Linked DNA regions of Homo sapiens: regions 1, 3, 4 and 5 are each linked to region 2. Evidence: fine-mapped expression QTL. A gene starts in region 2. Each other region holds a variant in brackets. All regions are shown on one strand. Distances are between the middles of the regions.

Region 1 (5,856 bases), 97 kb after region 2:
GGGGATTTGGCAGGGTCATGGGACAATAGTGGAGGGAAGGTCAGCAGACAAACAAGTGAACAAAGGTCTCTGGTTTTCTTAGGCAGAGGACCCTGCGGCCTTCCGCAGTGTTTGTGTCCCTGGTTACTTGAGATTAGGGAGTGGTGATGACTCTTAATGAGCATGCTGCCTTCAAGCATCTGTTTAACAAAGCACATCTTGCACCGCCCTTGATCCATTTAACTCTGAGTGGACACAGCACATGTTTCAGAGAGCACAGGGTTGGGGGTAAGGTCACAGATCAACAGGATCCCAAGGCAGAGGAATTTTTCTTAGTGCAGAACAAAATGAAAAGTCTCCCATGTCTACTCCCTTCCACACAGACACGGCAACCATCCGACCTCTCAATCTTTTCCCCACCTTTCCCGCCCTTCCATTCCACAAAGCCGCCATTGTCATCCTGGCCCGTTCTCAATGAGCTATTGGGCACACCTCCCAGACGGGGTGGTGGCCGGGCAGAGGGGCTCCTCACTTCCCAGTAGGGGTGGCCGGGCAGAGGCGCCCCTCACCTCCCGGACGGGGCGGCTGGCCGGGCAGGGGGGCTGACCCCCCCCACCTCCCTCCCGGACGGGGCGGCTGGCCGGGCGGGGGGCTGAACCCCCCACCTCCCTCCCGGACGGGGCGGCTGGCTGGGCAGAGGGGCTCCTCACTTCCCAGTAGGGGTGGCCGGGCAGAGGCGCCCCTCACCTCCCGGACGGGGCGGCTGGCTGGGCGGGGGGGCTGACCCCCCCCACCTCCCTCCCGGACGGGGCGGCTGGCCGGGCAGAGGGGCTCCTCACTTCCCAGTAGGGGCGGCCGGGCAGAGGCGCCCCTCACCTCCCAGACGGGGTGGCTGGCCGGGCAGGGGGGCTGACCCCCCCCACCTCCCTCCCAGACGGGGCGGCTGGCCGGGCAGGGGGCTGACCCCCCCACCTCCCTCCCGGACGGGGCGGCTGGCCGGGCGGGGGGCCGACCCCCTCACCTCCCTCCCGGATGGGGCGGCTGGCCGGGCGGGGGGCCGACCCCCCCACCTCCCTCCCGGACGGGGCGGCTGGCCGGGCAGAGGGGCTCCTCACTTCCCAGTAGGGGCGGCCGGGCAGAGGCGCCCCTCACCTCCCAGACGGGGCGGCTGGCCAGGCGGAGGGCTGACCCCCCCACCTCCCTCCCAGACAGGGCGGCTGGCCGGGCGGGGGGCTGACCCCCCCACCTCCCTCCCGGATGGGGCGGCTGGTTGGGCAGAGGGGCTCCTCACTTCCCAGTAGGGGCGGCCGGGCAGAGGCGCCCCTCACCTCCCAGACGGGGTGGCTGGCCGGGCAGGGGGGCTGACCCCCCCCACCTCCCTCCCGGACGGGGCGGCTGGCCGGGCAGGGGGCTGACCCCCCCACCTCCCTCCCGGACGGGGCGGCTGGCCGGGCGGGGGGCCGACCCCCTCACCTCCCTCCCGGATGGGGCGGCTGGCCGGGCGGGGGGCCGACCCCCCCACCTCCCTCCCGGACGGGGCGGCTGGCCGGGCAGAGGGGCTCCTCACTTCCCAGTAGGGGCGGCCGGGCAGAGGCGCCCCTCACCTCCCAGACGGGGCGGCTGGCCAGGCGGAGGGCTGACCCCCCCACCTCCCTCCCAGACAGGGCGGCTGGCCGGGCGGGGGGCTGACCCCCCCACCTCCCTCCCGGATGGGGCGGCTGGTTGGGCAGAGGGGCTCCTCACTTCCCAGTAGGGGCGGCCGGGCAGAGGCGCCCCTCACCTCCCAGACGGGGCGGCTGGCCGGGGGGAGGGCTGACCCCCCCACCTCCCTCCCGGACGGGGCGGCTGGCCAGGCGGGGGGGCTGACCCCCCCATCTCCCTCCCGGACGGGCTGGCTGGCCGGGCTGAGGGGCTCCTCACTTCCCAGTAGGGGCGGCCGGGCAGAGGCGCCCCTCACCTCCCGGACGGGGCGGCTGGCCGGGCGGGGGGCTGACCCCCCCACCTCCCTCCCGGACGGCACGGCTGGCCAGGTGGGGGGCTGACCCCCCCACCTCCCTCCCGGACGGCACGGCTGGCCGGGCGGGGGGGCTGACCCCCCACCTCCCTCCCGGATGGGGCGGCTGGCCGGGCGGGGGGCTGACCCCCCCCCACCTCCTTCCCGGACGGGGTGGCTGCCGGGCGGAGACGCTCCTCACCTCCCAGATGGGGCGGCTGCCGGGCGGAGGGGCTCCTCACTTCTCAGACGGGGTGGTTGCCAGGCAGAGGGTCTCCTCACTTCTCAGACGGGGCGGCCGGGCAGAGACGCTCCTCACCTCCCAGACGGGGTCTCGGCCGGGCAGAGGCGCTCCTCACATCCCAGATGGGACGGCGGGGCAGAGGCGCTCCCCACATCTCAGACGATGGGCGGCCGGGCAGAGACGCTCCTCACTTCCTAGATGTGATGGCGGCTGGGAAGAGGCGCTCCTCACTTCCTAGATGGGATGGCGGCCGGGTGGAGACGCTCCTCACTTTCCAGACTGGGCAGCCAGGCAGAGGGGCTCCTCACATCCCAGACGATGGGCGGCCAGGCAGAGACACTCCTCACTTCCCAGACGGGGTGGCGGCCGGGCAGAGGCTGCAATCTCGGCACTTTGGGAGGCCAAGGCAGGCGGCTGGGAGGTGTAGGTTGTAGTGAGCCGAGATCACGCCACTGCACTCCAGCCTGGGCACCATTGAGCACTGAGTGAACGAGACTCCGTCTGCAATCCTGGCACCTCGGGAGGCCGAGGTTGGTGGATCACTCGCGGTTAGGGGCTGGAGACCGGCCCGGCCAACACAGCGAAACCCCGTCTCCACCAAAACCAGTCAGGCGTGGCGGCGCGTGCCTGCAATCGCAGGCATTCGGCAGACTGAGGCAGG[A/C]GAATCAGGCAGGGAGGTTGCAGTGAGCCGAGATGGCAGCAGTACAGTCCAGCTTCGGCTCCGCATGAGAGGGAGACCATGGGGAGACGGAGACGAGGGAGAGGGAGAGGGACAGGGAGAGGGAGAGGGAGAGGGAGGTGTCCATCTTTATTTCAAGGGCTTTCAAAACAGCCTGTTTGTAACCTTCATTATTAGCCACTGAGAGCTCCATTAAAGCAGCCCATTAGCTTTCTGGATCAGAGCACGGTGGGACCTTGCCTCACCTTGGCAGACATTCTTAAGTGTCATTTCCCCGAAACACTTAGTTCCTGTTCTGCTAGACCTGGCTTTTTGAAGTCTTGAAATGATAGTCATCAACAAAATTACAAAGGTCGGGCCGGGTGCAGTGGCTCACACCTGTAATCCCAGCACTTTGGGAGGCCGGAGCGGGCGGATCACAAGGTCAAGAGTTCAAGACCAGCCTGGCCAACATGGTGAAACCCTCTCTTTACTAAAGATACAAAAATTAGCCCGGTCTGGTGGCACATGCCTGTAATCCCAGCTACTCGGGAGGCTGAGGCAGGAGAATTGCTTGAACTTGGGAGATGGAGGTTGCCGTGAGCTGAGATCGCATCATTGCACTCCAGCCTGGGTGACAGGGCGAGACGCCGTCTCAAAAAAAAAAAAAAAGAAAAGAAAAAGGCCGGGCCTGGTGGCTCATGTCTGTAATCCCAGCACTTTGGGAGTCCAAGGCGGGCGGATCACGAGGTCAGGAGATCAAGACCATCCTGGCTAACACGGAGAAACCCTGTCTCTGCTAAAAATACAAAAAATTAGCCGGGCGTGGTGGTGGGCGACTGTAGTCCCAGCTACTCAGGAGGCTGAGGCAGGAGAATGGCATGAACCTGGGAGGCGGAGCTTGCAGTGAGCTGAGATCACACCACTGCACTCTAGCCTGGGCGACAGAGTGAGACTCTGTCTCAAAAAAAAAAAAAAAAAAAAAAATTAGAAAGCTCAAGGAGCAGATCTACATCTTTTTAGTTCCCACAGGGACAAACTTGCCCACAGCAGGTTCTTAGTATATGGTGGGACATAATGAAGAAATAATAATAATTTATTTATTTATTTATTTATTTATTTTTGAGTTGGAGTCTTGTCCTTTCGCCCAGGCTGGCATGCAGTGGCACCATCTTGACTCACGGCAAACTCCACATCCTGGGTTCAAGTAATTCTCCTGCCTCAGCCTCCCAAGTAGCTGGGATTACAGGTGTGCGCCACCACGCCCGGCTAATTTTTTGTATCTTTAGTAGGGACGGGGTTTCACCATGTTGGCCAGGCTGGTCTCGAACTCCTGACCTCGTGATCCACCCGCCTTGGCCTCCCAAAGTGCTGGGATTACAGGCATGAGCCACCACGCCCAGCCTGTAATGAAGAAATTATTAATCACTAACTGTATGTCTGCCACTGTGTTGGGCATTGTGTGATGGGAGACAGAAAACAAATACATAAACTCATTCTGCCCATGGCATCATTATCTTCATTAATAATTTCCTTTTCACAGTGATTCTGAGAGGTCAGGTTCAAAATGATAAATGGTAACACAACCAGTAAGTGGTACAGCCAGGTTAATTCACATCTCCAGTTCCAAAGTCCAGGTGCTTTCTTCTTGATCAAGAGGAAGATCTTTTTGATGACTTTGTAGGAGGGTGAAATTTTTGTGAGGAGATAAGAAACAACTGAGAACCAATTCAAGAGAACAGATCCACGTGTCCCCAGTCATGTCAGCCACAAGTTCTTCCAGTGCTCAGAGCTAGTGCTGAGGGAGACTGAGCATGGAAGTATCTGGGAGAGGCTTCCTGTGAGTGAGAGGGTGAGGATGGTGGCTGGAGTGGGCAAGATGGGGAGGCCCAGACTGAAGAGATTGGGCTGACCCTATAGATAGATATTCGAAAGATATTTGAGCAGGTACATGGAACTAGTAAAATGACAGTTTTGGAAATTACCTTAAGTTCAGTGTACTTTATCTTAGGACAGAGGGGTGAGATGGAGGGGCATGCATTGGGAGAAGTTGCAGTCATCTTTAATCTGGAGGATTTCAGGCCAGGTGTGGCGGCTCATGCCTGTAATCCCAGCACTTTGGGAGGCAGAGGTGGGTGGATCATTGGAGGTCAGGAGTTTCAGACCAGCCTGGCCAACATGGTGAAACCCCATGTCTACTAAAAATACAAAAATTAGCGGGGCGTGGTGGTGCATGCTTATAATCCCAGCTACTCCGGAGGCTGAGGCACAAGAATCACTTTAACCCAGGAGGCAGAGGCTACAGTGAGTTGAGATGGCGCCACTGCACTCCAGCCTTGGATGACAGAGCGAGACTCCATCTCAAAATAAATATCTCTCTCTCTCTCTATCTATCTGTCTATCCATCTGGAGGGCTTTGAATGCTAGTTTGAGGTTAGCCAGAACTCTGGCTTCCTTAGTACGAAGTCCAGGGAGATGGTTTTAGGTGGTGGCCACGGGAAATAGAGGCTGATGAAAGGACATCTCTTGTCTCTTCTGGCTTCTGCAGACAGAGCAGCTTTGCCTTTACCTAGTCATGTATTGTGGGCTGGTATAAGATTCATTCAAAAATGGCTTCAGGCTGGACGCGGTGGCTCACACCTGTAATCCCAGTACTTGGGGAAGCTAAGGCAGGTGGATCACCTGAGGTCAGAAGTTGGAGACCAGTCTGACCAACATGGCAAAACCCCATCTCTACTAAAAATACAAAAATTGGCCAGGCATGGTGGCGCACATCCCAGCTACTCGGGAGGCTGAGGCAGGAGAATCGCTTGAACCTAGGAGGTGGAGATTGCAGTGAGCCGAGATCGCACCACTGCACTCCAGCCTAGGTGACAGAGCAAGATTCCATCTCAAAAAAAAAAAAAAAAAATGGCTTCAGTACTGAAAACACGCACACACAGTACCCGTTTCTAAATGGCTTCAGTACTGAAGACACGCACA
Region 2 (5,856 bases):
GCTAAGGTGGGAGGATCACTTGAGATCAGGAATTCTAGACCAGCCTGGCCAACGTGACCAAACCCCGTCTCTACTAAAAATACAAAATTAGCTGGGCGTGGTAGCATATGCCTGTAATCCCAGCTACTTGGGTGGCTGAGCTAGGAAAATTGCTTGAACCTGAGAGGCGGAGGTTGCAGTGAGCCGAGATCGCGCCACTGCACTCCAGCCTGGGTGACAAAAGTGAAACTGTCTCAAAAAAAAAAAAAAAAGAAAAAAGAAAATACTAGAAACCCAGAAATTATGAGAGCACCTGTGAGAGAGTTTAATGCCAGGCCATGACCTTTCAGCAGCCTCATCACAGAAGGCTGGATTGCACCTCTCTAAATGGGCTTTTTCCTACTCAGTTTTTCTTGCTCCAAGAGTAACCCTTAGATTTTTTTTTTTTTCGAGACAGAGTCTCGCTCTGTCACCCAGGCTGGAGTGCAGTGGCAGGATCTTGGCTTACTGCAACCGCCCCCACCAGGTTCAAGCGATTCTCCTGCCCCAACCCCCCGAGTAGCCGGGATTACAGGCTCGTGACTCCACGCCTGGCTAATTTTTCTATTTTTAGTAGTAGAGATGGGGTTTCACCGTGTTGGCCAGGCTGGTCTCAAACTCCTGACCTCAAGTGATCACCCACCTTGGCCTCTCAAAGTGCTGGGATTATAGGCGTGAGCCACCGCGCCTGGTCAAATTTTTTATATTTTGTAGAGATGGGCACTATGTTGCCCAGGCTGTTCTTGAACTACTGGGCTCAGGCAATTCTCCTGGCTCAGCCTTCCAAAATGCTCAGATTACAGGTGTGAGCCACCGTGCCCAGCCTCTAAGATGTCCTTGTCCTAGCTATTATTATGTACTATTATCTTCTAATCTTTCCCAACAGGACTATTTTCATTGTAACTCAAATGGAAATGCCTTTCATCCCTCCTAAATTTGTCAAAGCTGAGGATGGTAAATGCACATAACAGGAAGAAAGCATTAGGAAATTAGCTCAAATCATCTAGAAAGAAGTGCTTATTGACTTATCCTAAATATATAATTTATATAAATTTACATAATTACATAAAAGTACTTAGGCTAAATTACAGTAAATATATTTTTGTTATACTGTTAATTACAACCTTGAAGCTTACTAAATTATTTTAAAACTACTTGGCCACATTAAGTTCAGATAAAAGTTGTCCCTAAAACATTAGCATTGATGTCCGCTAAAGTAGAACTCCCTTTAAATTATTATTATTATTATTATTGAGACAGTTTTGCTCTTGTTGCCCAGGCAAATGCAAATACACGATCTCGGCCCACTGCAACATTTGCCTCCTGGGTTCAAGCGATTCTCCTGCCTCAGCCTCCCCAGTAGCTGGGATTACAGGTGCCCACTACCACCCCCGGCTAATTTTTTAAATTTTATTTTTAGTAGAGACGAGGTTTCACCATATAAAACATAATTTAGGGCCAGGCGCGGTGGCTCATGCCTGTAATCACAGCACTTTGGGAGGCCGAGGCGGGCGGATCATCTGAGGTCAGGAGTTCGAGACACACCTGGCCAACATGGTAAAAACCGTCTCTATCAAAAAAACAAAAAAAAATTAGCCGGGCGTGGTGGCGTGCGCCTGGGAGGCTGAGGCAGGAGAAACACTTGAACCCGGGAGGTGGAGGTGGAAGTGAGCCCAGATCACGCCACTGCACTGCAGCCTGGGCTACAGAGGGAGACTCCTTCTCAAAAAATAAATAATAAATGTTTTAATTGCAAAAATTAGCATGTAGAAAATAGGGCAAAAATACAAATTGTCTGTGATGCTAAGCCCGAGACACCCAACAAGTTAATTTTCCTGTTTTTAGCGTAAAATCTTTCAAATAAATAACTACTGCTTTTAGTCTCTGCACCAGGAATCTCACGTGCTTTCAAATGTTTTACAAAGCACGTAAAAAAGTATTTGAAAAGTCCCACTTACCCCTCCCACTCCTATTTTTAAGATTATTAGGATCGGCCCAAATTTAAAAATTTAACAAAAAGAGTGCTTATTAATTACATTTTAAAATGAAGGGTTACAAAAAGAGATGAGCCTGGCATTTCTAATTCGGGGGCCTTGGGACCTCTCCCCTCCAAGTGCAAGTTGTAGCAACCTGCCGGGTCCACGCATGGGCGGGTCATACTCCACGGGTTCCGGTTTCCACTCCCTGTGAACCAAAAGCCAGAGAGGCCCACGCACGAGTCCGGAAGTGAGGGAGGGAGGACTTTCGTACGCAGCCGCCTCCCAGCTGGAACCTCATCTTTAGTGCTCGGCCGCGGGCGGCGTAACTCGGGGTTCCGCCTCGGAATACCTCCCACTTCTCTTGTCTAAGAGGAGCAGTAGCAAGCTGAGCTCAGAGCGAAGCTGGCGAGCCAAGGAGATAAAGAACCCTCGGTGGGGATGCCCAGAGGGTGCATGCTCCACGCCCCTCGAAACCGATTCTCATTGCTGCTGCTGCAAAGCAACCCGAAGTGCGCCACCTACCCGACTGAGGCTGCGCAAGCCCCGGGGTCTGGGCGGGGTGGTCCTCGTGCGCGCCGCGTCGCCGTGGAGACGAGGGCGGGCCCGCGCGAGACTGGCGTCTAGAGGCGCGCGAAGCGCTGAGGCGGGCGTGGACCGCGCGGGAGTTAAGAAGCAGGTCCCGGATCGCCGTATACCGCCGGGTTTTCTCCCAACGTCAGGCCCGATGGCTCGGCTTCCCCAGGTACGAGGCCCGGCCCTAACGTCCCCACCCTCTTCTGGGCTCGGCCTTTCCGGCAGTGAGCCCGGCAAGGACCTCAGTCGGGTTCCTCCGAGCCCGGTGAAATCTGTCCGAGCCTCCGCTTCCTCCCCTGAAAGTGCAGGTGATGTTGTCTACCTGCGGGTCTGTGGTGCGGGAATGGAGGAAGTGCGACAAGAGGGCGCAGGACGGGGCCCGGAGCCTGCCATCCTCTCCCGCCGCGTCTTCTCGGCTTCTTGTCTTCCGCCCTGGGGGCACCGCATCCTCCCAGGCGTCTAGTGCGCTCCTGGCCGGTGCTCGAGTCCACGCAATGCCCCTTAGCGTGCGCGGATCCAAATCAGGGGTTTCCTCCTCCCGGCTCCGTGGCCCAGGAGCGGAAGGGCTGGTATATGGGCGACCTTACTCCCACTGAGCCCGCAGGGAGTAACGCAGTAAACAAACCTGGAAGCCTTCCCCGCGTGGGAGGTGGGTACCTGTTTTTATGGGAGGCTGTTCAGGTTTCTTAACTGCTGTGTAGATGTGTTGTAAATATTTGTTGAATGAATGATGTGAGGGACTTGAGTACAGCCATACCTCGCTTTATTGCACTTCACAGATACCGTGTTTTTTACAAATTGAAAGTTTGTAGCAAGCAGCCCTGCACCGAGCAACTATTTTTTCAACAGCATGTGCCCACTTCCTGTCACTTACACTTTGGTAACTATCGCTATATTTCAAACTTTTTATTTCAGGTGCACCGTTACAGTGATCTGTGATCAGTGATCTTTGATGTTGTTATTGCAATTGTTTTAGGTGGCCACGAACCTCACTGGTATAAGACAGCAAACTTAAGTGTTGTGTCTGACTGCTCCACTACCTGCCAGTTCCCTGTTTCTCTCCTCCCTCTCGGTCCTCCTTGTAGCCTGAGAGGCAACAATATTGAAATTAGGCCAATTAATAGCCCCACAGTGGCCCCTAAGTGTTCAGTGAAAGGAAGAGTTCCATGTCTCTCACTTTATATCAAAAGCTAGAAATGACGAAGCTAGAAATGACGAAGCTAGAAATGCCTATGCTCTGTAAATGCAACAACAAACCCAGGATGACCACACATCTCTTTACTGAATGTCTTTACATCATATTTACAGTGTGGTTTACTGAATATTTTAAGCCTACTATCGAGACCTACTGTTCAGAAAAAAGGATTCCTTTCAAGATATTACTGGTCATTAACAAGGCACCTGGTCACCAAGGAACTCTGATGAAGATGTACAAAGAGATTAATGTTACTTTACATGTCTGCTAACACAGTATGCATTCTATAGCCCATGGTTCAAGGAGTAATTTTGACTTTCAAGTCATTATTTAAGAAATACATTTTGTGGGCTGGGCATGGTGGCTCATGCCTGTAATCCCAGCACTTTGGGAGGCCGAGGCGGGTGGATCACGAGGTCAGGAGTTTGAGACCAGCCTGGCCAACATAGTGAAACCCCGTCTCAACTAAAAAATACAAAATATTAGCCGGATGTGGTGGCGGGCACCCATAATCCCAGCTACTGGGGAGGCTGAGGCAGGAGAATCACTTGAACCCGGGAGGCGGAGCTTGCAGTGAGCCAAGATTGCGCCATTGCACTCCAGCCTGGGCGACAGAGTGATGAGACTCCATATCAAAAAAATATATATATATTTTGTGACCCCATAGCTGCCATAGGTAGTGATTCCTCTGATGGATCTGGGCAAAGTAAATTGAAAATGTTCTGGAAAGGATTTCTAGGTGCCATTAAGAACATTCATGATTTGTGGGAAGGGGTTAAAATATCAATTCCAGCCTGGCCAACTTGAAGAAACCCTGTGTCTACTAAAAATACAAAAATTAGCTGGGTGTGGTGGTGGGCGCCTGTAATCCCAGTTACTCAGGAGGCTGAGGCATGAGAATTGCTTGAACCCAGGAGGCAGAGGTTGCAGTGAGCCAAGACTGCACCACTGCACTCCAGCCTGGGCGACAGAGCAAGACTCCGTCTAAAAAAAAAAAAAATCATTAAAAGGAGTTTGAAAAAGTTGAGTCAGGCCGCCATGGATAACTGAGAGACTCAAGACCCGAGTGGAGGAAGTAACTGCAGATATGATAGAAAAATCAAGCAAACTGGAATTAGAAGGGGAGCCTAAAAATGTGACCAATTGCTGCAACCTCATGATAAAACTTGGATGGATGAGGAGTGGCTTCTTTTTTTCTTTTTTTTTTTTTTTGAGATGGAGTTTCACTCTTATTGCCCAGGCTGGAGTGCATGGCACACTCTTGACCTCCTGACCTCATGTGATCCACCTGCTTCGGCCTCCCAAAGTGCTGGGATTACAGACCTGAGCCACTACATGCCCGGCTTTGTTTTTACTTTTGTTTTCAGACAGGGTCTTGTTCTGTTGTCCAGGCTGGAGTGCAGTGGTGATCATGGCTCATTGCAGACTTGAACTTCTAGGCGAAAGTGATCCTCCTGCCTTAGCCTCCTGCCTCCTCAGTACCTGGGTGTGTAATACCATGCCTCGCTAATTTTTTTTTTGAGATGAGGGTCTTGTTAGTTGAGCAGGCTGGTCTTGAACTCCTGGTCTCAAGCAGTCCTCCTGCCTTGGCCTCCCAAAGTGCTCACCACAACCTCCGCCTCCCGGGTTCAAGTGATTCTTCTGCCTCAGCCTCCCGAGTAGCTGGGATTACAGGCATGTGTCACCACGCCTGGCTAATTTTTTGTATTTTTAGTAGAGACAGGGTTTCACTGTGTTAGCCAGGATGGTCTCCATCTCTCAGCCTCCCAAAGTGCTGGGATTACAGGTGTGAATCACCGTGCCTGGTGAAAGTGGTTTCTTGAGTTGAAATCTACACCTGGTGAAGATGCTGTGAACATTGTTGAAATGACAGCAAAGGATTTAGAGTATTACATAAACTTAGTTGACAAAGCAGTGGTAGGATTTAAGAGGATTGACTTCAATTTGAAAGATGTTCTACTGTGGGTAAAATGCTATTAAATAGCATTACATGCTATAGAGAAATCTTTGATGAAAGGAAGAGAGTCCATCGATGTGACACACATCACTATTGTCTTATTTTAAGAAATTGTCATAGCACTTTGGGAGGCT
Region 3 (5,856 bases), 110 kb after region 2:
TTACTGCATCTAAAATTCCTGATCTAACCATTTACAGGAGTCCTACGTCCTACTGAGTGTAAAACATGTTTAAACTCACATTAATTGAGCTTTTACCGCAAATCAAGCACTTACCTCATCAAATCATCACAGAACCCCTAAGAAGCACGTATTTATAGATGAGGCCAGAGAGGTTAATTTACACTCACACAGATGATGTATAAAATGGAGGCAAAGCAGGAAGCCACCCCCAACTCAGACCCCAGCCCACGGTAGCTGCTTTCTCCTCTGTCTGCAGTGCCTGGCCCTGCGGGGAGCGGAGCGGCAGAAGCTGATGCGAGCAGACCTGCACCACCAGCACAGCGTGCTGCACAGGGCGCTGCAGGCATGGGTGGTAGGAACTGCTGCTTCCCTCCTGATCTTGCTGTGGGGACAGGGGAGGTTTCTGGAGACTTTGTTTTCCTTCCTTGTTCTTCCTGTCCGTCCCAGAACAGAGTCACGTGACACACCTCAAACCAAGCAGGTGCCCCGGACAGCGGGCCTTAGGCCATAGGGTTCTTTGATTCTTGCTTGGCCAAGTGGAAACAAGTGCTGTCTGTGGGTACTAGCCTTGTAGCGAAAGCAGCTCCTTTCCCTGGAGTCCCATGGTTTGACTTAGGAGGTGAGGGCCTGTGAGACAGTTTCTCCCTGTCGTCTGGGAGGGTCTGCTGGCCCTGGGACCAGGGGCTGTTGGCCTCTTCCTACCCTTTTTGAGTTCTCTGGGCATGGCAGCCTTGTGGTAGATGCACCTCTGAGGCCTGCCTAAACAGGGGGAAGTGTGGGCCCAAGAGCAGCCTCAGTCTTCCTTGTCCCCTACAGACTTACCAGGGCAGGGTGCGAAGCATCCTCCGGGAGGTGGCAGCCAGGGAGAGCCAGCACAACAGGCAGCTGCTGCGGTGAGTCTCCCGGGCGCCTCCCAAGCTCCAGCTGGGGAACAAGGAATGCACTCCAAACCCCAGCCTTTTAGGGGGTCCTGCTGAGGGCCAGGTCGGGGATGATCCCGGGTTCCTAGTCGCTAATATCATGGTCTTGGCTTTTCCACTTCACTCACGGGTTCGCCTTCATGTCTTAAGCCCCTGCTGTGTGCAGGGCAGGACCTTGGAAAGCAGCTGTTACCTGCATGCCTTAAAGGCCACTTGTCTTGCTCTTCTGAGCACTTTTTCCTCCCTGCTTCACGCCTACAAAATTCAGCTTTGCAAGGCACCTTGTCATCTCTTCCACTCCAGAGGCTTCAGCGACTCCCTTTCCTGTCAATTTCCAAGTAGTCCCCTTCCAGCTTGCTCTGCAGGCCTGTCACTGACTCTCCAGCGTCACCTCTAGGCCCTGTCAGACCATCTGCACCACTCACCCCTGTGGAGGGTGCTTCTGCAGCTTCTGCCACTCTTTCTAAGCCCAACTCTAACCTCACTCCTTCCCAGCAGTCCTCCCACATGCCCCCTTTCATTTCCTTCCTTTGTATTTGTTCAGCACATGATACTCCTGGTGGCCTATGGACAGTGGGTCTCGTGGACTTTAAACACCTCCATCCTTAGCTGGGCGCGGTGGCTCATGCCTGTAATCCCAGCACTTTAGGAGGCTGTTTGACACCAGGAGTTTCAGACCAGCCTGGGCAACATAGCGAGACCTTGTCTGTACTAAATATAAAAAAAATTAGCTAGGCACGGTCATGTATGCCTGTGGTTCAGGTACTTGGGAGGCTTAGGTGGGAGGGTCACTTGAACCTTGAAGGTCAAGGCCACAGTGAGCCGTGATTATGCCACTGCACTCCAGCCTGGGCGATGGAGTGAGACCCTGTCTCTCAAAAGTAAATAAATAAAATAAATGCCTCCATCCCTCATATGGAGTCCCATAGAGCACCCATCCCGCTCTTCAGACAGGGTGGAATAAGCAAGAACTCCCTGAGCTAACTCAGCAGCAAGCTGAGGCGTAGGCAACCTTCCTCCAGGTTCCCTGTCTCTCCACACTTCTCTTATCACAGTGTGAGTCACCTGTGTTGCCACTGCCTGGTTATGCCCTGTTATCCCCGTAGCACCTGGAGTTTGGTCTCCAGCAGTGCTGGGTCCCTCATGCACTCTTGGTGCCCAGCCCAGAGCAGCTGCTCAGTAGCCATTTGTTGGACATAGATGTGCAAGTAAACATAGGTGTTGGTGAAACAGACATTCTTAGGTGTAGAGTCCCTGACTCAGGAGTAGGGGAAGAAGTAGGAATGATTCACAGAAGCCTCCCTTCTCTCTCTATCCTGGTGTCATCTGCCTTCC[T/C]CGCACCCATGCATCTGCAGCGGGGCATTACGTCGCTGGAAAGAGAACACCATGGCCCGAGTGGATGAAGCCAAAAAAACCTTTCAAGCAAGTACTCATTACAGAAGGACCATATGTTCCAAGGTGAGGTATAAGGAGGCAAGCTGGTCACCCAGGAGAGTTGGGACTGTGTTCTGGTGAGGGCGTGGGATGTAGGGGGTGGTGCCAGAGATTTGAACTGAATAAGGAACCTAGAAAATGGGTAACTTTCCTCCAGCACACACACAAACATCCATGTGGGCACATGTTTAGTTTTTTACTGAATTACAAACCAATATGCATTAAATAGAAACATAACACATCATAAGTGAACTAGTTCTTATCAGAACCAGTATTTTCTTTTTTTCTTTTTTTTTTTTTTTTTTTTTTTGAGACAGTCTCACTCTGTCACCCAGGCTAGAGTGCAGTGGTATCATCTCAGCTCACTGCAACCTCCATCCCCCAGGTTCAAGCGATTTCTCCTGCCTCAACCTCCCGAGTAGCTGGGACTACAGGCTTGCGCCACCACGTCCGACTAATTTTTGTATTTTTAGTAGAGATGGGGTTTCACCACATTGGCTAGGCTGGTCTTGAACTGATGACCTCAGGTGATCCATCTGCCTCAGCCTCCCAAAGTGCTGGGATTACAGGCTCTTTGAATCCAGGAGGTGGAGGTTGCAGTGAGCCGAATTGCACCACTGCACTCCAGCCTGGACAACAGAGCAAGGTTGTCTCAAAAAAAAGAAAAGAAAAGAAAAAATACCCGAAGCTAGCCTGTGCCTCCCTTCCCCTGGAAGAAGGAACACAGGAATCTTTGCTTGGCTTCAGAGCTTGAAGAGGAGGCCTTTTTGGTGGGAATGGAGTTCATGACAGCTCGCAGAGCAGGCACCAGGCATTCCCTGGGCAAGTGTTTTGTTATTGTGATTTTGTAGGCATCACTCATACAAAAGAATGTATACGACGTAGGTGTGTTCCATTTACTAAATAGTAATAGAGGCCGGGCGCAGTGGCTCACACCTGTAATCCCAGCACTTTAGGAGACTGAGTCGGGTGGATCACTTGGGGTCAGGAGTTCGAGACCAACCTGGCCAACATGGTGAAACTCCGTCTCTACTAAAAATACAGAAATTAGCTGGGTGTGGTGGTGCATGCCTGTAATCCCAGCTACTCAGAAGGCTGAGGCAGGAGAATCGCTAGAACCTGGGAGGCAGAGGTTGCAGTGAACCGAGATCATGCCACTGCACTCCAGCCCAGGTGACAGAGCGAGACTATGTCTCAAAAAAAAAATTACATATATATATTTTATATATATATAAAAATAGAATTAAGACCCATGTATATAATGACTTCACTACTTTATGGCATGGTATGATATGTAAATCCTGGTAGAAGAGTCCCAGCAGCTGAAATGCTGGGCTTCCTGTGAGGGGCTGGGGCCCTGTCCTATTGCTCAGTGGTCTGCGTGCAAGGCAGTTACTTCCTGGACCGTGTGTGAGAAGCAAATGGCAACAGCTTGGCCTTGCCTCTCCAGGAGCCACCGTCACAGACCTGGGGTGGACCCGGAAGCCAGGAGGTATAGTGACTCTTGCTGTGCTCCTTGCCTGCCCATAGGTCCTGGTCCAGTGGCGGGAAGCTGTGTCAGTGCAGATGTATTACCGACAGCAGGAGGACTGTGCCATCTGGGAGGCCCAGAAGGTGCTGGACAGGGGTAAGTGGGGCCCCAGAAGCAAGTCATGTTGAGGAATGTGAAGACAGCGCTGTTGTGGAGATCCCTGTGGCCCGCATAAGTCTGTCTCCTCCTCATACATGCCAGTTCCCTGTGGTTGCCATGACAAAGTACCACAGACTGGGAGTCTTCAAACAACACAAAATTGCCCTCTCAGTTCTGGAGGCTGGCAGTCAGCGATCAAGGTGTGGCAGGGCCATGCTTCTCCACAGGCTCTAGGGGAGGGTCCTTCCTTGCCTCTCCCAGCTTGTTTCTTGCTTGTCATGGCTTTCCTGGACGTGTAGACCCATTGCTCCAGTCTTTGCCCCATCTTGACATATCGTTCCCTTCCTGTGTCTGGGTCCCTTAGAAGGACTCTGGTCATATCGGATGAAGGGCCCACCCTACTTGAGTGTGACACCATCCTAACCAATTACATCTGCAGTGAGCCTAGTGCCAGATAAAAGTCACATTGTGAGGTTCCAGGAAGGACATGAATACGGCAGGTGTGGAGGGGGCACTGTTCAGTCCAGTATATCTTAGAAATCTATTCCCAACTGACTGCCAACCAGTTTATGTTAAAATGGAAGGCTAGAGCTTGAGATCTACAGAGAAATAAAGAAAAGAAGCTGGAATGGAGGAGCTTGGGGTGGTTGGGGAGGGGGTTGTTTTGATGGGAAAGTCCTTGCTGCTTGTCAGGGCAGCCCCCACCGTGTTAGCGTCCTGCTTCCTTGTGTAGCTGGGCCCTTAAATGTTTAGGGGCCAGAGACTTTCTAATTCGATCTCAGGAAGTCCTGCTGCCTGCTGTATATACATCTTTGGAAAGATTGCAGGGCACAGTGGTACACACCTATAGTCCCAGCTACTTGGGAGCCTGAGGTGGGAGGATCACTTGAGCCCAAGAGCTGGAGGCTGCAATGAACTATGATCACACCACTGCACTCCAGCTTGGGTGACAGAATGAGACCCAGTCTCTCTCTTTTTTGAGACAGAGTCTCACTCTGTCTCCCAGGCTGGAGTGCAGTGGTGCGATCTCGGCTCACTGCAACCTCCACCTCTTGGGGTTCAAGCGAATCTCCTGCCTCAGCCTCCAGAGTAGCGGGGACTACAGGTGTGTGCCACCACGCCAGGCTAATTTTTTGTATTCTTAGTAGAGACAGGATTTCACCGTGTTAGCTGGGATGGTCTCGATCTCCTCACCTCGTGATCCGTCCGTCTCGGCCTCCCAAAGTGCTGGGATTACAGGCGTGAGCCACTACACCTGGCCAAGACCTAGTCTCTTTTAAAAAATCTTTGGAAAGATAGTCTAGAACAGGAGTCCATGCCCCTGCTTGCAAGATGCACAGACACGCGGCAGACCCATGGGGAGCTGTCTCCTAACACAGCTAGGGGTCCCATAGTAGGAGAATCTGACACGCTGAAGGGGACAGCTCATTTTTAGAATAAATGAAAATACAAATAAAAGTGAAAACATTTAGAAATTGTTTAAATTGGCCCATAGAGAAATTGACCAAGTGGTTAAGTTGGTTTAATAGAGTTTGCTCCAGGACAAAACTGAATCAGCTTTGGTTTGGTTCCGACTGTAGCGTGTGTGTTAATGAGCATGTTTCAACACACATCCTGGGGACAAAACCCTGGGGTCAGCCATCCCACACGGCTGCATTACTGCGCCACGAATGTGCTGCTGGGTCCTGGAGCTTCTCCTCAGCTCAGAAACCAGCACTGTGTTTCTAGTTTACGAAGAAAGAAGCCGAGGGCTTTAGCCAGACCTTGGGCTCTGGAGCTTCTGCACCTGACCCTTTGGGCACCTGACCGTGCAGCTTCAAGCTCCAGAGGCTTTTGGCCAGTTTGGGTCAG
Region 4 (5,856 bases), 140 kb before region 2:
TTCATTAATCAGGCACAAAAAGGAAAAAAAAAGTCCTCATGTGTAATTGTTTGTATTTCTATACTTTAACCTGGGAGGATTTTTTTGTTTTTTTGTTTTTTTGAGATGGAATTTCGCTCTTGTTGCCCAGGCTGCAGTGCAGTGGCATGATCTCAGCTCACTGCAACCTCTGCCTCCCATGTTCAAGCAATTCTCCTACCTCAGCCTCCAGAGTAGCTGGGATTACAGGCGCCCGCCACCATGCCCGGCTAATTTTTGTATTTTTAGTAGAGATGGGGTTTCACCATTTTGGCCAGGCTGGTCTCTAACTCCTGACCTCAAGTGATCCGCCCGCCTCGGCCTCCCAAAGTGCTAGGATTACAGGCGTGAACCACCGTGCCCACCCCAGGATTTTCTTTTTTGTGCCTGATTACCTGAAGGAGAGAGAGTCAAGGTATCGCTGGTGACACGGGGGCAGGAAACATGGCCACACACATACATACACGTGAAAGGCAACTGTCTAACTGAAGAAAATCAGCTGCACATTACAGAGAAAGAGTTAATGTCCAGAAGTGCCTGAAGGTCTTCCTGGAGGTTGCCCGTGAGCCAAGATCACACCACTGCAGTCCAGCCTGGGTGACAGAGTGAGACTCAGTCTCAAAAAAAAAAAAAAAAAAAAAGTCATAGTGCTCGCATGAGTTAAGCTTTTAGGTGAGATTCCTGAGTGACATTTGATTCAACAGCAGTGTATAAAAACACTAGGTCCTTCCCATGTTGGGTTAGCTGTAATGGTGGTTAGTGAAATGTCTGACAATTTGAGAGCCAAAATGATTTTTTCATTTATTCATTCAAGAAGTATTTATGGGTGTCTTATTTGTGCCACGCACCGTGCTGGGCAATGGAGATGCTGTGGGGACAAGATATTTGGGGTCACGTCTGTAATCCCAGCACTTTGGGAGGCTGAGGCCGGCAGATCACCTGAGGTCAGGAGTTCAAGACCAGCCTGGCCAACATGGTGAAACCCCGTCTCTACTAAAATTACAAAAATTAGCCAGGTAAGGTGGTGTGTGCCTGGAATACCAGCTACTCGGGAGGCTGAGGCAGGAAAATCGCTTGAACCCAGGAGTCGGAGGTTGCAGTGAGCCAAAATCACACCATTGTACTCCAGCCTGGGTGACAACAGCGAAACTCTGTCTCAAAAAAAGAAAAAAAGAGGCCAGGCACGGGGGCTTAAGCCTGTAATCCCAGCACTTTGGGAGGCCGAAGTGGGTGGATCACCTGAGGTCAGGAGTTCAAGACCTGCCTGACCAACATGGTGAAATCCCGTTTCTACTAAAAATATAAAAAATTAACTGGGCGTGGTGGCGGGCACCTGTAGTCCTAGCTACTCGGGAGACTGAGGCAGGAGAATCACTTGAACCTGGGAGGTGGAGGTTGCAGTGAGCCAAGATCGCATCGCTGCACTCCAGGCTGGGTGACAGACTGAGACTCCATCTCAAAAAAAAAAAAAAAGAAAAGAAAAGACGTTTAATTGACTCATGGTTATGCAGGCTCTATAGAAGCATGGTGCTGGCATCTGCCCAGTTTCTGGTGAAGACTAAGGGAGCTTTCAATCATGGCAGAAGGCAAAGGGGGATCAGGCAAGTCACATGGTGAAAACAGGAGCAAGTGAGAGTAGGTGCCACACACTTTTATTTTTTAATTTTATTTTTAAAAATTTTTGTATTTTTTATATTTTGAGACAGAGTCTCGCTCTTTCACCCAGGCTGGAGTGCAGTGGCATGATCTCAGCTCCCTGCAACCTCCGCTTCCCAGGTTCAAGCAATTCTCCTGCCTCAGCCTCCTGAGTAGCTGGGACTACAGGCACATGCCACCATGTCCAGATAATTTTTTTTCTTTCTTTCTTTTTTTTTTTTTTTAGACGGAGTCTCACTCTGTTGCCCAGGCTGGAGTGCAGTAATGCTATCTCGGCTCACTTCAACCTCCACCTCCCAGGTTCAAGTGATTCTCCTGTCTTAGCCTCCCAAGTAGCTGAGATTACAGGCACCCATCACCACCCCCAGCTAATTTTTGTATTTTTAGTAGAGATGGGATTTCACTGGTTGGACAGGCTGGTCTCGAACTCCTGACCTCAGGTGATCCACCCACCTCAGCCTCTCAAAGTGCTGGGATTACAGGCGTGAGCCACTGCACCCAGCTGTTTTTATTTTTATTATTTTTTGAGACAGGGTCTTGCTGTGCCAACCAGGCTGGAGTGCAGTGGCACAATCTCAGCTCACTGCATTCTCTGCCTCTGGGGCTCAAGCGATCCTCCCACCTCAGCCTCCCGAGTAGCTGAGACTACAGGTGTGCACTACCATGCCTGGTTAATTTTCGTATTTTTGATAGAGACAGGGTTTCACCATGTTGGCCAGGCTGGTCTCCAACTCCTAAGCTCAGGTGATCTGCCCACCTCTGCCTCCCAAAGTGCTGGGATTACAGGCGTGAGCGTGAGCACAAGCCCAGCCTATTTTTATTTTTTGTTAAAGACAGGGTCTTGCTCTGTCACCCAGGCTGGAGTGTGGTGGTGCCATCACGGTTCACCGCAGCTTCTACCACCTCCTTGGCTCAAGCAATCCTCCCTCCTCAGCCTCCAGAGTGACTGGGACCACAGGTGTCAGCCACCACACCTGGCTAACTTTTATACTTTTTGTAGAGGGGTTTTACCATGTTGTCCAGGCTGGTCTCAAACTCCTAGGCTGAAGCGATCTGCCCGCCTCGGCTTCCCAAAGTGCTGGGATTACAGGCGTGTGCCACTGCGCCCGGCTAATTTGTGTATTTTTTGTAGAGACAAAGATTTCATTACGTTGCTCAGGCTGGTCTCAAACTCCTGGGCTCAAGCCATCTGCCCGCCTTGGCCTCCCAATGTGCTGGGATTACAGGCGTGAGCCACTGTGCCCAGCCTTATTTTTCTTTTTAATGTTTATTTT[C/G]TCCATCAAATATAATTTGGAAAATGAGGCAAAGCAGAGGAAACGATAATAAATTATCCATAGTGTCTCACCACTTAAATAGAAGTACTAAAATGTTGGTATATTCTTTCTTTCTTTCTTTTTCTTTCTTTCTTTCTTTCTTTCTTTCTTTTTCTTTCTTTTTTTCTTTCTTTCTTTCTTTCTTTCTCTCTTTCTTCCTTCTCCTCCTCCTCCTTCTTCTTCCTCTTCCTCTTCTTCTTTTTCCTCCTCCTCCTTTTTCTCTCTCTCTCTGTTTTTTTCTTTTCATGGAGTTTTGCTCTTGTCGCCCAGGCTGGAGTGAGTGCAACGGCGCCATCTCAGCTCACTGCAAACTCCACCTCCCAGGTCCAAGTGATTCTCCTGCCTCACCCTCCCGCCTGCCACCATGCCCAGCTAAGTTTTGTATTTTTAGTAGAGATGAGGTTTCACCATGTTGGTCAGGCTGGTCTTGAACTCCTTGACCTCAGGTGATCCACCTGCCTCAGCTTCCCAAAGTGCTGGGATTACAGGCGTGAGCCACTGTGCCTGGCCAAATGTTGGTATATTTTCATCTTGACTTTTTTTTTTCAGTTTCAATGCACTGTTGTTAAAAATACTACTAATGAATATATGCTTTTTTTTTTACATTAAGAAATGAGTGTCTCACTTTATCGCCCAGGGTAGAGTGCAGTGATGAGTTCATAACTCATTGCAACCTGAACTTGTGGGCTTGAACAATTCTCCTACCTCAGCCAAGTGAGTAGCTGGGATTACAGGCACCCACCACCACACCTGCCCTCTCCTGCTTCTTAAATGAAGCAGTATATTATGAATATGTTGCAGATTAACACTGGGACTGTAGGTAAGTGTGTTTTGGGGCCACTTTCACTTTTTATCTTAAACACTTTCATAGTGTTTTATTTTATTTTTACAACGCAAATGGTTACTTTTGTCATTTGAAAAGCAATAGAGGCGCCAGGCACGATGGCTCACACCTGTAATCCCAGCACTTCTGGAGGCCAAGGTGGGTGGACCACCTGAGGTCAGGAGCTCGAGACAAGCCTGACCAACATAGTGAAACCCTGTCTCTACTAAAAATACAAAAATCAGCCAGGCATGGTGGTACATGCCTGTAAACCCAGCTACCTGGGAGGCTGAGGCAAGAGAATCGCTTGAACCTGAGAGGCAGAGATTGCAGTGAGCCGAGATCGTGCCATTGCACTCCAGCCTGGGCAACAAGAGTGAATCTCTGTCTCAAAAACAAAAACAAAAACACTTATATAGTGTTTTATTTTTACAACGCAACTAGTTACTTTTGTCATTTGAAAAGCAATAGAGAGGCCAGGCGTGGTGGCTCACACCTATGATCCCAGCACTTTGGGAGGCTGAGGCGAGTGGATCATGAGTTCAGGAGTTCAAGACCAGCTTGACCAACATGATGAAACCCCGTCTCTACTAAAAATACAAAAATTAGCCAGGTGTGGTGACGCACACCTGTAATACCGGCTACTCAGAAGGCTGAGGAAAAGAGAATCGCTTGAATCCAGTGGCGGAGGTTGCAGTGAGCCGAGATCGCACCACTGCACTCTAGCCTGGGCAACAGAGCAAGACTCTGCCTCAAAAAAAAAAGAAAAGAAAAGCCATAGAGAACCCATAATATCATGAGTACCTTTCAAGTCATTACATAAAAATTAAAAATAAAATAAGTAAATATTAAAGAAATCTTATTTTCACGGGCTGCAAAGCTTCCCGACTGGATGATTGGTTGTATCTTGATCTTGATTCTCTAACGGTTTCTCCTGTGGAACACTTAGGTTGTGTCCTTTTTCATTTTCTTTGCTATTATAGATAGCACTGAGAAGAACGTCTTTGCACATCATACATACCAGAAGCTTTAATATGATAATCTGATTTCATATGCTGGACTAGAAATGGAGAAAGACAGCTTGTGGGGCGACGAGTGCTGCTTTTATGAGGCGTTTTCTACTGGAGGTGGGAGGTAAGTAGATTGGTGGGGGAAAGGAGCTTAAAACAACAGTATTCTGAAATTCAAAATTTAGATTTAAAATAAGAATTATGAGCCGGCCATGGCGGTTTATGCCCGTAATCCCAACACTTTGGGAGGCTGAGGGTGGGGCAGATCACTTAAGGCCAGGAGTTCGAGACCAGCCTGGCCAACATGACAAAACCCAGCCTCTACTAAAAAAAAATATATATATATATTAGCTGGGTGTGATGGTGCGTGCCTGTAGTCCCAGCTACTCGGGAGGCTGAGGCACGAGAATCGCTTGAACCCAGGAGGCAGAGGTTGCCGTGAGCTAAGATTGCGCCACTGCACTCCAGCCTGGGTGACAGACGAAGACTCTGTTTCAAATAAATAAATAAAAAGAAGAATCGGGGCCGGGCACGGTGGCTCACCCCTGTAATCCCAGCACTTTGGGAGGCCGAGGGGGGCAGATCACAAGGTCAGGAGATCGAGACCATCCTGGCTAACATGGTGAAACCCCATCTCTACTAAAAACACAAAAAATTAGCTGGGTGTGGTGGCGGGCGCCTGTAGTCCCAGCTACTTGGGAGGCTGAGACAGGAGAATGGCGTGAACCCAGGAGGCGGAGCTTGCAGGGAGCCGAGATCGTGCCATTGCACTCCAGTCTGGGCAACAGACTCCATCTCAAAAAAATAAAAATAAATAAATAAAAAGAAGAATCATAGCCGAGTGTGGTGGCTCACACCTGTAATCCCAGCATTTTGGGAGGCTAAGACAAGAGGATTGCTTGAGCCCAGGAGTTCAAGATCAGCCTGGGCAATATGGCAAGACCGTGTGGCTACAAAAAAATTTTTTTGTTAATTAGCCAGGCAAGGAGGCATGAGCTTGTGGTCCCAGCTACTCGAAAGGCTGAGCCAGGAGAAT
Region 5 (5,856 bases), 61 kb before region 2:
TTGTGTGTGTGTGTGTTTTTTTTTTTTTTGAGACTGAGAGAGACTCAGTCGCCCAGGCTGGAGTGCAGTGGCGCGATCTTGGCTCACTGCAACCTCCGCCTCCCAGGTTCAAGCGATTCTCCTGCCTCAGCCTCCCAAGTAGCTGGGACTATAGGTGCGCGCTACCACGCCCAGCTAATTTTTTTGTATTTTTAGTAGAGATGGGGTTTCACCATGTTGGCCAGGATGGTCTCGATCTCTTGACCTCATGATCCGCCCGCCTGGGCCTCCCAAATGCTGGAATTACAGGTGTGAGCCACCACGCCTGGCCTAATTTTTGTATTTTTAGTAGAGACAGGGTTTCACCATATTAGCCATGCTGGTCTCGAACTCCTGACCTCGTGATCCGCCCGCCTCAGCCTCCCAAAGTGCTGGAATTAGAGGCATGAGCCACCGTGCCCGGCCTGGAATATAGATTTTTTAAAGAGGTTTTGACTCAATGATAATATAACAACAATATGGCCACCTTTTTTACTCTTGGTACATAGTTCTTAGTCTCTGTGAGGCAGGTCTCGGTGTCTTATTCACCAGTTTTCATCTCTAGCACAACATATTCTTAAGTTTGGAGGCCCATGGATATAAATTACCTTCACATATTCCAGTAAATCGGGAGGACATATCAATTACAGTTTCTGGTTAGGGAGGAAGATTTTCCTGGCATGGCTGAAGAGGGAGGCCCTAATTTCTTGTCAGTACCCACTGATGGTTTCAGGAAACCCAGCAAAAACAGGTATTCTCTAACAGTCTATAAGTGATATTGTATCTGTAAGAATCAGTCTGAAATTTTCAGGGTATTTCTCTATGAAGATTAAAGACGGATTTTTTTTTTTTTTTTTGAGGCGGAGTTTCGCTCGTTGCCCAACCTGGAGTGCAACGGCATGATCTTGGCTCACTGCAACCTCCGCCTCCCGGGTTCAAGCCATTCTTCTGCCTCAGCCTCCCGAGTAGTTGGGATTACAGGCACCCGCCACCATGCCCAGCTAATTTTTGTATTTTTAGTGGAGACGGGGTTTCACCATGTTGGCCAGGCTTTTCTTGAACGCCTGATCTCAGGTGATCCGCACCCTTCGGCCTCCCAAAGTGGTGGGATTACAGGCATGAGCCCCTGCGCCCGGCCCAGAGTATTTCTCTATAACAAATCCATGCTTTCTTTTAATTTTAAACTAGGCTCTTTATACTAAACATGTTTTTTGTCTTTGACTTTCTGCAATAAGAGGAACCACACAACTTCCAGAAGTCTTTACCGGCTTTTATGTTAAGGCTTCAGTGTCTCATGCTGCTAGGGAAGATAAAGCTTTTGTAGGTCTATGGTTCTTAAGGGTATGATACTAAATCTGAGCAGAAGGGTGGCATCCAGGCAAATAGGGCAGAAGCTAGGTTATTATTTACACTGACTGTTCTTTTTCCCTTCCATGCAGTGCTCTGGTCTGGGGTCTCTCTGTGAAACACAATCCTCAGAAAGTGGGTAAAGACCATACGTTGGAGGATGAGGATGTCATTCAAATTGTGAAGAAGTGAAACCTTTCCCTTTTCCCATCTGCCGGACGAACCACAACAGCGTTCCCCATGATCAAGCACCCTACCCCAGTTCTTTCTGGTTTTGGCAGTCACTGGATCAGGATCCAGGGGAGGGAGATGGAGGCACCCAAACTGGAACTTCATTTGTCTTACCTTGGTGTCACCTTGTATGTCGAACTGCATAAAAGATCTGGTAGGCTGGTCAGCTACATGCAGCTCATGTGTCATTGTCAGAATTTGTTTTGGGATGGGCTGAATGAGGAAGGGTATATACGGTGAAGCAGCTACAGAAGGGATCCTTGGGAACTTCATCTTGAGTGTGAAATGGATAAAAATATGACATGCTGCATCTTACTTGATGTTTACTTATGGGAACCCCTTCCAAACTAGATATGGCTTTCAGTCCTTTCAAGTAGTCTTTCCCACATGATACTGGAGAGAGGAAGGACTTTATGTAAGTTAATTGATCACTCCCCGCAAGGCTAACCTATTTTGGGAGATCATGTAATTAAGTACTCCGACCAGGCAGATCAGGGTTTGAAATTGCAGGTCCACCTCTAGTTAGCTGTGGAGCCCTGAACAAATTACCCAACCTTTATGAGCCTCAGTTTCCTCATGTAACATGGGGATAGTAATAGCACTTACTTTCTGCGGTGGTGATTGTTAGTAATGGAGGGAGATGGTACTTATATGTCAAATACTGTGCTAAGCAATTTGTAAGTACTCAATGACTCTTGGCTTTTGTTGCACCGAGCCTTTTACTGGGCTGTCTGCCCTATGCAGAGCACAGCTGTACATCATCAGTGTTGGGTTGAATGTTGAGCTGAACTATGTTGCCACCTGGGCCACTAAAATGCTTTTTTCTTTTTCTTTTTCTTTTTTTTTTTTTGAGATGGAGTTTCGCTCTTGCTGCCCAGGCTGGAGTGCAATGGCATGATCTCGGCTCACCGCAACCTCCGCCTCCCGGGTTCAAGCGATTCTCCTGTGTCAGCCTCCTGATTAGCTGGGATTACAGGCAGGTACCACCATGCCCCGCTAATTTTGTATTTTTAGTAGAGATGGGGTTTCTCCATGTTGGTCAGGCTGGTCTTGAATTCCTGACCTCAGGTGATCCGCCTGCCTCAGCCTCCCAGAGTGC[T/C]GGGATTACAGGTGTGAGCCACCGTGCCCGGCCAACTAAATGCCTTCTTTCCCATAACCCAGACTTTCTGCTTGAATCCCCATGAAAGTCCTGGCTTCAGCCAATAACTTGGGCGAAGGTGCATTGCAAGTGAGGCAACTGGTGTGATCAAAGCAGGTTTGTGTGTTCACATATGTGTATATATGGAGGTGGGCGGTTTAGGAGGAGGCTTGGTGTCAGGACTACTTGAGAGGATGCTAAGGACATAATCAGATATTTGGGGGACTAGGAATATAGGAATTTAAGGGGATTGCTCTGATTATGTGAAACTGGTTGATGAAAATCTTGGTGTGGTGGGTAACAATATGGACGGAGGGGGCTGGGCCCAGTAGCTCACACCTGTAATCCCAGCACTTTGGGAGGTCAAGGCAGGAAGATCGCCTGAGCTCAGGAGTTCGAGACCAGCCTGGACAACATAGCGAGGCCCAATCTCTACAAAAAAATTTAAAAAATTAGGTGGGCATGGTGGTGCATGCCTGCAGTCCCAGCTGTTCGGGAGGCTGAGGTGAGGACTGCTTGAGCCTGGGAGGTCCAGGCTGCAGTGAGCTAAGATGGGCCACTGCACTCCAGCCTGGGTGACAGAGTGAGACCCTGTCTCCAAGAAATAAAAATTAAATAATTAAAGAATATGGGCAGAAGGGAGGGTATGGACATGTAAGTATGGGGGAGAAATCTTAAACTTGTTAACTAACTTGCTCTTGGGAAGAAGTCAAACATTATTTCAGTATGGATGGAGTAGTCCCTGAGAAAATCAGGAAGAATAGGTTTGCAGCAAGACAGAATTTGATTATTTCTTCAAATGAGGCAAGCCAGAGCTTTTAGCAGGTCATGAGTGATCACAGTGTGGGATTATTCACATACTCAGCCTCTCTCCAGTGCTTGTTTCTCCTGCTGCCCTAATAGCAGTTGTTTCCCTTTGATAGTCTTCCTGGAGCTTGGGCTTGTCACTGTCCCCAGACCTGGAAGGTAAGCTCCTGAAGCCTGGTATGCTAGTTACTTTTCAGAATATCGGCCTTGATACCACTGGTGCATTCATGATAGAGGCCGTGGTCTAGAGCCTGCCCCAACCCTGCAGGGGAACAGGGAAACATTGGCTTTCTGAGCTACGGGATTTCCAGGAAGGTTTGTTCTCCAGCCAGAACATATTGGGTTTCTGGGGACTCTTCTTGCCAAAATTCACTTTCATTGAGCAAGCATTTAGCACTGCCAGAATGTTGGGGAGAGAAGGTTGCTGAAATCCAGTTCATCCTAAGGCCTCAGGATGTTCTGTGAATAGGCTTTGTGTCCATCATTTAGCACCCTCCCCATGGCTTGGTCCAGGGACCCCTGGTCTCCTTGAGGAGAGAATTACCCTACCTTTCCCTTTCTCCTCTGGGCTTAGACTTAGCAGTTCTGGGAGAGGGGTATGTTTGGTATTGGGAATGCTGCCTAGGGTATGGCCACTGTGGAGGTACAGCTAAAGGCTTTCTCCTCATTAACTCTAAGACTTTACTGGTTTGGCTGTCATAGCATGATTTGAATTTCCTGTGCTTTTACATATTCCATGTTTCTTTCCTGACTTTATTACAAGTAAACAGATCCATTGTTCTGTGCCATTTAACTAGTTAGAACACGTTTAGCTGCATTTAGCAGAAAGTGCTAACTTAAGCGGCTGAAATGGAAGGGAACTTGGTCTTACCTTTTTGGGAAGCTGTTTTCCAGAAGCCACCCAGTTTGTTGTCTCGTGGCCTAAAATTGGGTCACATGTCTATTTTTGAATCAATTGTTGGTAAAGGGAATAGAATTATTGAAGAACCAGAATTTAACCCTGTAAGTTATCGTCATTCTTGGTTTGTGTTTATGCTCATAGTTCACAAAGGCCAATGGACCTCCCACTTCCCTTCCCTGTTAATAGAGTCTGGCTTAAAAGACACTCAGTAGCTATCTCCTAGGGGAAGGCCTAGCTGCACTCTCTGTTCACTTCATTCCCACTTCCTTTTACCACTGACCTCCCACAGACTTATTTAACTGCTTCCTTTGGGAGGGACTATTCTTTCCTCTCCTACCTGACCTCCCCTGCTTAACAGATTTTCCATGATATGCTTTGTGGTCCTCAGCTGTTTTACTTTCAGGATGCCTTCTATATCCTCAGCTTCTCTTAACTTTTATTTTGCACATCCTTCCAGCACTGATTGCTTGTGAACTCATCTCGTGCCTGCAAGACATCAAAAGTTTCTCCAAAGACATCCCTTCCTCTCTGCCCTCATCCTATATCAAGGTCTTAGCTCCTTGAAGACTGCATTAATGTGTCTTTTGCCTTCATCCCCCCCCCACCCTCCCGCTTCCTCTAGTCCTTGTGTTTACCAAAATACTTTTGCTAAAACCTGTATGTCTAGCTTCTGCTGATACTCTTAGCAATACTCCCTTATTTCCTTCTGGCGCCATTTGCCAATCACCAGCTAATGGCTTTGCTCTTTGCATGGTACCTGTTTCTGTCCTACTAGCTTCTAGTCTGAAAAGGAAGCCTTTACTAGCAGCTTCAACCCAGTCCTCCTTACCTTGCACCTATTAACGTTGGTTCAACATGAAGGGGAAGTAAGATAAGTGGAAGAGGATACACAGGAAAGGTGGAACTGGATTCAGGTGTCTGTGTTCTGCCATTGACACTTGGGACTGCGTTCCAGCTTCCACCTGTGGAAACCAGAAAGCATTTGCCAAAAATTCTAAACAGAGGGTCTATTTCTGAAGCTGAGGAATCACATGGAGTGAATAGCATGGGGGAAGGGGATTACTAATGAGGCTGAAAGAAAAGTACCAGGAAGAGACTGACTTCATGCATAATCCATAAAGCCAGGTTTTCTTGAAAGGTGACCTGCTTTCTTGTATTCCTGCAAGTACACGGCAGGGTGGGCAGTTCCAGGCTTATAGTCATTATTCCCTAACAAACGGTCAAGACTTAGGCTGCCCAAGACTCTACTACCCTTGTAGTCAAAAATCCAACCACCTTGACCTTTACCTCATTATCTGACCCTTTAGCATGGAGTCCTAAAATGGTCCTGAATGGACAAATATCTAGAACTCTGGTAAATTAACTTGAGTAGCATGGGAAATAAGTATCACCTCATAGCAGGACTGAAAAACCT

Which allele goes with the higher level. Positions count from the first base shown, and alleles are read on the strand shown. Sizes are in standard deviations (SD) of each study's normalised expression. Not every link is listed here.
For the expression in CD4 T cells of the gene that starts at base 2,638 in region 2, allele T in region 3 goes with a lower level than allele C (large effect, 0.85 SD a copy in BLUEPRINT).
In carriers of allele G in region 4, the expression in esophagus muscle of the gene that starts at base 2,638 in region 2 tends to be lower than with C alone (small effect, 0.26 SD a copy in GTEx).

The links. PIP is the estimated chance that this variant, and not a neighbour inherited with it, causes the effect.
Region 1: its variant is fine-mapped to the expression of SFI1 in whole blood (TOPMed, PIP 0.94).
Region 3: its variant is fine-mapped to the expression of SFI1 in CD4 T cells (BLUEPRINT, PIP 0.95). The same link has a PIP of 0.9 or more in atrial appendage and whole blood.
Region 4: its variant is fine-mapped to the expression of SFI1 in esophagus muscle (GTEx, PIP 0.90).
Region 5: its variant is fine-mapped to the expression of SFI1 in whole blood (TOPMed, PIP 0.93).

The regions. Positions count from the first base shown.
Region 1 is chr22:31,591,017-31,596,872 of GRCh38, forward strand. All of the region lies in intron 15 of SFI1 (SFI1 centrin binding protein), which reads left to right. Among named protein-coding and RNA genes, the nearest start is that of MIR7109, 28 kb to the right of the region's middle. RefSeq lists enhancers at 8-817, 1,627-2,435. The variant A/C (reference allele first, on the strand shown) is at 2,878.
Region 2 is chr22:31,493,899-31,499,754 of GRCh38, forward strand. It overlaps SFI1 (SFI1 centrin binding protein), which reads left to right and starts at 2,638. Exons shown (of 33, transcript NM_001007467.3): 1 at 2,638-2,739. RefSeq lists enhancers at 396-445, 2,720-2,989 and silencers at 2,480-2,699, 3,600-3,659.
Region 3 is chr22:31,604,032-31,609,887 of GRCh38, forward strand. It overlaps SFI1 (SFI1 centrin binding protein), which reads left to right. Exons shown (of 33, transcript NM_001007467.3): 19 at 278-373; 20 at 838-914; 21 at 2,297-2,399; 22 at 3,906-4,002. Among named protein-coding and RNA genes, the nearest start is that of MIR7109, 15 kb to the right of the region's middle. The variant T/C (reference allele first, on the strand shown) is at 2,277.
Region 4 is chr22:31,353,127-31,358,982 of GRCh38, forward strand. No RefSeq gene overlaps it. Among named protein-coding and RNA genes, the nearest start is that of LINC01521, 9.3 kb to the left of the region's middle. The variant C/G (reference allele first, on the strand shown) is at 2,949.
Region 5 is chr22:31,432,415-31,438,270 of GRCh38, forward strand. DRG1 (developmentally regulated GTP binding protein 1) reads left to right here. Exons shown (of 9, transcript NM_004147.4): 9 at 1,458-2,038. The coding sequence ends at 1,557. It also overlaps a transcript of EIF4ENIF1 not described here. Among named protein-coding and RNA genes, the nearest start is that of DRG1, 36 kb to the left of the region's middle. The variant T/C (reference allele first, on the strand shown) is at 2,696.